Homo sapiens: one gene and its partner. The protein of the gene in region 1 interacts with the protein of each later gene in a pairwise test. Each region holds a gene or a part of one and is shown on either strand. Other genes may lie near its edges.

The links.
Region 2: the proteins of RGL3 (region 1) and KLHL12 interact in binary tests that used the Homo sapiens proteins (3 or more experiments, as listed by UniProt).

The regions. Positions count from the first base shown.
Region 1 is NC_000019.10:11,398,495-11,402,315, reverse strand, and holds part of RGL3 (ral guanine nucleotide dissociation stimulator-like 3), read left to right. Parts: intron 1-68; coding exon 69-101; intron 102-183; coding exon 184-305; intron 306-2,018; coding exon 2,019-2,114; intron 2,115-2,207; coding exon 2,208-2,276; intron 2,277-2,346; coding exon of another isoform or gene 2,347-2,364; coding exon 2,365-2,461; intron 2,462-3,821.
Region 2 is NC_000001.11:202,906,557-202,910,377, reverse strand, and holds part of KLHL12 (kelch-like protein 12), read left to right. Parts: intron 1-1,253; coding exon 1,254-1,368; intron 1,369-3,821. UniProt on the Homo sapiens protein: Substrate-specific adapter of a BCR (BTB-CUL3-RBX1) E3 ubiquitin ligase complex that acts as a negative regulator of Wnt signaling pathway and ER-Golgi transport.

The DNA of each region.
Region 1 (3,821 bases):
CCAGCCCCTGACCTTGACCCTTGACCCTTGACCCTGGGTGCTGCAATTCAGACACACTTTGCCCCCAGGGGGATCTCATTAACTTTGAGAAGAGGAGGAAGGTGAGTGGAGGCTACAGTGGGTGTGGTGGTGCCTGAGGGTGGGGGTGGGGCAGGGGTAGGGTCTTAGAGGCTCGTCCTCCAGGAGTGGGAGATCCTGGCCCGCATCCAGCAGCTGCAGAGGCGCTGTCAGAGCTACACCCTGAGCCCCCACCCGCCCATCCTGGCTGCCCTGCATGCCCAGAACCAGCTCACCGAGGAGCAGAGGTGACCACCCTGTAGCCTGTCCCAGCCCCACCCCAGCTGAGCCTGGGTCACCAACTGGATTCCACCCACTCCATACACACCTCCAGCTCCTCCCAAGACCCCCTCTTGAGCCCTGATCCCCCACTACAACCTGTGACCTTGCAGTATCTCCAGTCGAATCAAATAGACTGGGCCTGGTGGTTTACTCGTGTAATCCCAGCACTTGGGAGGCCAAGGTGGGTGGATCACTTGAGCCCAGGATTTCGAGACCAGCCTGGGCAACATGGCGAAACCCCATATCTACAAAAAAATACAAAAATTAGCTGAACGTGGCTGGGCACGGTGGCTCACACCTGTAATCCCAGCACTTTGGGAGGCCGAGGCGGGTGAATCACATGAGGTAAGGAGTTTGAGACCAGCCTGGCTAACAGAGTGAAACCCCGTCTCTACTAAAAATACAAAAAAAAAATTAGCCAGGTGTAGTGGCAGGCGCCTGTAGTCCCAGCTACTTGGGAGGCTGAGGCAGGAGAATGGCGTGAACCCGGGAGGCAGAGCTTGCAGGGAGCCGAGATGGTGCCACTGCACTCCAGCCTGGGCAACAGAGCGAGACTCCGTCTCAAAAAAAAAAAAAAAAAATTAGCTGAATGTGGTGTTGAGTGCCGTTGGTCCCAACTACTTGGGAGGCTGAGGTGGGAGGATTGCTGGAGCCTGGGAGGCAGAGGTTGGAGTGAGCCAAAATCACGCCACTGCAGTTCCAGTCTAGGTGACAGAGTGAGACCCTGTCTCAAAAAAAAAAAAAAAAAAATAGTCACAATTGACCTCTGACCTCAATTTCAACCCCATCTGATTTTCTGACCTCAACTTTAGCATTCAGCTGGCCATTCAACTCAACTGTCCCATCTGTTGACTTCCCCATCTTTGGTCCTATCTGACCCATGACCTTATTCATGACCCCTCATCTGACTCTCTGACCCCAACCCTTGACCCTCAGTTCTGAGTAACTGACTCCAACTTTTATGTTTGACTGTCCAGCTTGACTATGACAACTGTGTCCTTTCTTTCTATATAACTGTGACCCTAACCATTGACCCCAATGGTGACCTGACCCCAGTCTGACCCTGACTTTATTTTATTTATTTATTTATTTATTTATTTATTTATTTATTTATTTATTTTTGAGACAGAGTCTGGCTCTGTTTCCCAGGCTGGAGTGCAGTGGAGTGATCTCGGCTCACTGTAGCCCCCGCCTCCCAGGTTCAAGCAATTCTACTGCCTCAGCCTCCCCGGTAGCCGCAATTACAGGCGCGAGCTACCACACCTGGCTAATTTTTTTTGTATTTTTAGTAGAGACGGGGTTTCACTATATTGGCCAGGCTGGTTTCGAACTCTTGACCCGAAGCAATCCTCTCGCCTCAGCCTCCCAAAGTGCTAGGATTACAGGCGTGAGCCACTGCACCCAGTCCTGACCCTGACTTTAATCCTGACCCAATTTGATTCCTTAGTGCCACCCTGTGAATCTCTTTGTGACCTCCTGACCAGCCATCCTGTCCCATCTCTGATAAGACCTTGATGCTCAATGACCCTCATTTACCACCCTGACCCTGGCATGTGGGGTGCCACCTCTGGCTGCTCCCCCTTACACCCCAAACCCACCTCCCAACTGATTCCAACTCTTATCTCTCCATCCCCTGTATTTCCTGCCCCCACCACCTCATCCACATATTGACCCCTCAGCTACCGGCTCTCCCGGGTCATTGAGCCACCAGCTGCCTCCTGCCCCAGCTCCCCACGCATCCGACGGCGGATCAGCCTCACCAAGCGTCTCAGTGCGTGAGTCTCGGGGTGTGTGTAGGGGCGGTGATGTGGGCAGATATCAGCAAGGGCTGCTCCTGCCTTAGCCTCATCCCCTGTCCCCATCCTTAGGAAGCTTGCCCGAGAGAAAAGCTCATCACCTAGTGGGAGTCCCGGGGACCCCTCATCCCCCACCTCCAGGTGAGCATTCTGCTTGGTGATGGGACTGGGGATCATGGGATCAGGAGTCAGCACAGCCACCCCACCTCAGCCTCTGCATCTCCCCCAGTGTGTCCCCAGGGTCACCCCCCTCAAGTCCTAGAAGCAGAGATGCTCCTGCTGGCAGTCCCCCGGCCTCTCCAGGGCCCCAGGGCCCCAGCACCAAGGTACCAAGACGGCTTGTGTGTGCATGCGGGCCTGCGGGCACCCAGGCTCTGTGTGTGTGCACGTGTGTGTGCATGCACATGTGTACACACAGGATTGTGGGGCCAGGAGTGTATACAGGAGGCACACTGAGCGCCCGGGGTATCCATCCAGGGGATTGCATGCATCTGCACGGCCCTGTTTGGGTGATCACTCATAAATCCGACTCGTGCTCAGATTTGGACCTGTGTAACTGCTTGCCCATGGGTCATCTAGGGTGCAATCACATCACACCCCTTTTTATTTGAAACAGGGTCTTCTTGCTCTGTCACCCAGGCTGAAGTGCAGCGGTGCAATCTCAGCTCACCGCAACTTCCACCCCTCCCCCAGGCTCAAGCAATCCTTCCACCTCAGCCTCCCAAGTAGCTAGGACCACAGGTGTGCACCACCATGCCCTGCTATTTTTTTTATTTAGTAGAGATGAGGTTTCGCCATGTTGCCCAGGTGGGTTTCGAACTCCTGAGCTCAAACAATGCACTCACCTCGGCCTCCCAAAGTGCTGGGATTACAGGTGTGAGCCACCGCACCCAGCCTACACTTTTTTGAGGACATGTATGTCCCTAAGAATCTGCATACCATGGCAGACACGGTGGCTATTGCCTGTGATCCCGGCACTTTGGGAAGCCAAAGTGGGAGGATTGCTTGAGGCCGGGAGTTCAAGACCAGCCTGGGCAACATAGTGAGACCCTATTTCTATTAAAAGTCAAAAAAATTAGCTGGGTGTAGTCCCAGCTACTCAGCAGGCTGAGGTGGAAGGATCGCTTGAGTTTGAGGCTGCAGTGAGCTACGATCATGCCACGGCACTCTAGCCTGCATGATAGAGCGAGATCCTGTTTATGAAGAAAAAGAGACTGGGCACGGTGGCTCACGCCTGTAATCCCAGCACTCTGGGAGGCCGAGGTGGGCGGATCACGAGGTCAAGAGATCGAGACCATCCTGGCCAACGTGGTGAAACCCTGTCTCTACTGAAAATAGAAAAATTAGCTGGGTATGGTCGCGCACACCTGTAGTCCCAGCTACTTGGGAGGCTGAGGCAGGAGAATCACTTGAACCCAGGAGACGGAGGTTGCAGTGAGCTGAGATGGTGCCACTGCACTCCATCCAGCCTGGTGACAGAGCGAGGCTCCCTCTAAAAGAAAAACAAAAAAAGAAAAGGAAATGAAGGAAATGAAGGCTGGGCATGGTAGCTCATGCCTGTAATCCCAGCACTTTGGGAGGCCGAGGCCAGTGGATCACTTGAGGCCAGGAATTTGAGACCAGCCTAGCCAACATGGTGAAACCCCGTCTCTACTAAAAATAAAAACATTAGCTGGGCATAGTGGC
Region 2 (3,821 bases), on another chromosome or scaffold:
CTTTTTCTCCTGTTTGTGATTTCTGTCTTTCTTACAACCAATTCACATATCCCTTGTGTCTAGTTCTTTACATTGTGTTTAGGAGCACAGACTCTGGAACCAGACTCGGGCCTGAAATCCCAAATTCACCACTTACTCTGTGAACTTAATATGTCTTAATATATTTGTGCCTTAGCTTTCTTATGTGTAAAACAGGGATGATAATAGTACGTTCCTCATAGGTTCTTGTTAGCATTGAGTAAGTTACTATGTGAAAACTTTTAAAACCAAGTCTTTGTACATAAGTGTTTACTACTATTTATTGTTTGTTTTCCTTTCCAGTTCGACTAAGAACTTCTTGGGTCAGGTTAATAGAGGTGCCATTTAATTAGAGCTGTGTCCTTTAGGGTCCCAACAGGAAACAGATGCTATACTCAAAACAGGACAATTTTAGAAGAGTTTTTTTTAATAAAGAAGCTGTTTACAAAGGCGCAAGTTCAGAGAAACAACAAAAGACAGTGAAATAACCTGGATCTAGGACATAAGCTATTAACAACCCCTAAGCCTGAAGGGACAAGGTTGAGGAGTGGTTACTAGAACCTTAAAGGAAAGAGAATCGTGTAGAGTCACTGCCTTGAGAGAAACCTTGACCTTTGGTTGGGCTGATCCCAACCAGAAGCTAGAAGGCATAGGAAGCCCTATTGACACAGTTCATATAGGCCAGTCTTCTGAGCCAGAGAGCAGAGTGGAAAAAGGTACAGAGTGAGTTGGGAGGCAAATGAAAGATGTCCAGTACAGAGCTGTCAGAAATAGACAATGGTAATTACAACAGGACTGTGAACCTTGGGGGAGATATTTCAGACAAAATATGATTCTTCCTGTCACCCAGAAAATAACAGAATCTTTTTGGTTTTCCCCTTAAAATTCTTATTAGTTATTATGTACTTGTGTTTGCATAATCCCTGGAAGGGCATCCAAACTATGTAAAAATAGTTAAATGTAAGCGCTGCGATAGATGGGAAATACTGCTCAACATATCTGTTTATATCATTTGATTTTTGATCCATCTAGTATGTTATCTATTTTTCAAGTAAATTTTAAAAATCATTTCTGGAAACCGAGAGCATGGTTACTACCAGCAATACTCCTGGAATCACAGGGCTTTGCAAACTGGTTTTCTGTAGTCAGAAGTTAATTATTTGCATGTGCTCTTTGTACTCTTATAGTATTACAGGTATCCCCAGTGCCTAACTCTGCTGTCTGCTATATTTCAGCCTTTCATCCGCTGTAGTTTACAATGCAGGGATCTGGTTGATGAAGCAAAGAAGTTTCATCTGAGGCCTGAACTTCGGAGTCAGATGCAGGGACCCAGGACAAGGGCTCGCCTAGGTAAGCTGGTATCTCGGCAGAATGAGGGGATGCTTTTCAACTACTTCTTGCAGGTGACAACATAGTTGAAAATAATACTCTATAAGAAGTACAGACACCTCGTTTCAGACCTTTTCTTCTATCATCTCAGACAAGTCACTTTACCACTCTAAGCTTTCTTTCCTATAAATCAAGGATGTCTTCTCTATCTACTTCACATAATTATTTGGAAATTAAATGAGATAAAATATAAAAGCACTTTATACATTGTCAGGCATTACATAATATGTTACAATTTTTTGTCAATATTATTTAGATTCTGTGAATTAGAGATAATTTTAGTGCCACATAATGGCAGGTAAGTAGTATATGCTTCCACCCACCTCTTCACTTCCCCTTATGTGGTTTTTCCATTCCGGAATGAAGAGAGGAAGAAAAGGAGCCCAGTGTGGTAGAAAGTACATGGGTTTTGGCAGTTACTGTTGGTGCAGGTACCAGTTTACCTCGTACTAGATTTATTAACTTGGGCAGGAACCTTAACCTCTGTGTGCTTCAGTTGCCTCATCTGTAAATGGAATCATCGTAGCACCTGCCTGTAACATTGTTATGAAGAGTAAATAAAGTTATTTATGTAAAGCCTTAAAACACTTCTTGGCACATAATAACTATGTGTATTAGCTATTATCTTAGCAAATAGACCTAGGTTCAAATCCAAGCCCCAGCAATGACTGGTTGGGCAAGGTATCAATTTATCTGAGCCTGTATGTCTACCACTAAGATGAGAGTTAGTGTCTTATCTCAGTGTTGGGAGGATTGAATGAGATAATGTATATAAGATACCTAACACTATAGCTGGCACACACTAAATACTCAGATATCACCATACTTTCCACTTCCTATTCTCTTTGCTTCACTGTCCAAAAGCCTAGGTGTATAGTGTATAAAAACATTTTATAAGTTATGAATTACTCTATATGTATGGGGTGGTATTTTGTTTTATTGTTTCCTTTTATCTGACTGAGGACTCATGATGCGTGCTAAGGTGTTAGTTGATAATTAAGCTGCTCACTGATGGGTTTAGGTAGAATGGTGATTTATCCGCTATATTTTATTTTTTTTAATAGAAATGAGGTCTCACTATGTTGCCCAGGGTGGAGTGCAGTGGCGTGATCTCGGTTCACTGCAGCCTTAGCCTCCTGGACTCAAGCAGTCTTCCCACCTCAGCCTCCCAAGTAGCTGGGACCGCAGGCACGTGCCACCATGCCTGGCTAATTTTTATATTTTTTTGTAGAGACAGAGCCTTCCTTTGTTGCCCAGGCTGGGTCTTGAACTCCTGGACTCAAGCAGTTCACCTGCCTTGGCCTCCCAAAGTGCTGGGATTACAGGCCTCCCATATATATATATATAATTTTTTTCCTTTTTTTTTTTTTTTTAAGACAGAGTCTTGCTCTGTCACCCAGACTGGAGTGCAGTGGTGCAATCTTGGCTCACTACAACCTCTCCCAGGTTCAAGCAATTCTTGTGCCTCAGACTCCCGAGTAGCTGGGACAACAGGCGACTGCCACCATCCCTGGCTAATTTTTGTATTTTTGGTAGAGACAGGGTTTCTCCATGTTGACCAGGCTGGTCTCTAACTCCTGGCTGCAATTGATCCACCCACCTTGGCCTCCCAAAGTGCTGGGATTACAGGCATGAGCCACCATGCCTGGCTCCCTCTCCTATATTTTTTAATGGCATAAGTACTGCATGTTCAATGTAGAACTTGTAGAAATACAGAGAAGCAAAAAATAAATAAAAATCATCCATAATCTTACCACTCAAAGATACTGCATTTTTTTAAAAAGAGAACTTTTAGATAGGGCATTGTAGATGGTATTTTCTACTACTGCAAGATGACAAAATGTGATCTGTGTTTCATATGCTTTATACACAGATACATATCAACACAAGATAGATTGAAGGACTGAATGGTGAAAAACTATGAGAATATTAGAAGAAATTATAGGAAAATATTTGTATACCTTCTGGATGGAAGTCTTTTTTTTCTTTTTTGTAAAATATATGTAACAGGCCGGGCACGGTGTCTCACACCTGTAATCCCAGCACTTTGGGAGGCCAAGGTGGGCAGATCACTTGAGGTCAGTAGTTCGAGACCAGCCTGGCCAACATGGTGAAACCCCATGTCTACTAAAAATACAAAAATTAGCTGAGTGTGGTGGTGCACACCTGTAATCCCAGCTACTCTGGAGGCTGAGGCAGGAGAATCGCTTGAACCCGGGAGGCGGAGGTTGCAGTGAGCCAAGATTGCACCATTGTACTCCAGCCTGGGCGACAGAGTGAGACTCCATCTCAAAAATAAATAAATTAATTAAATAAAATATATTTAGCATAAAATTTACCATCTTAACCATTTTTACATGTACAGTTGACTCATGTTAAATACATTGTTATACAATCAATCTCTGTAACTCTTT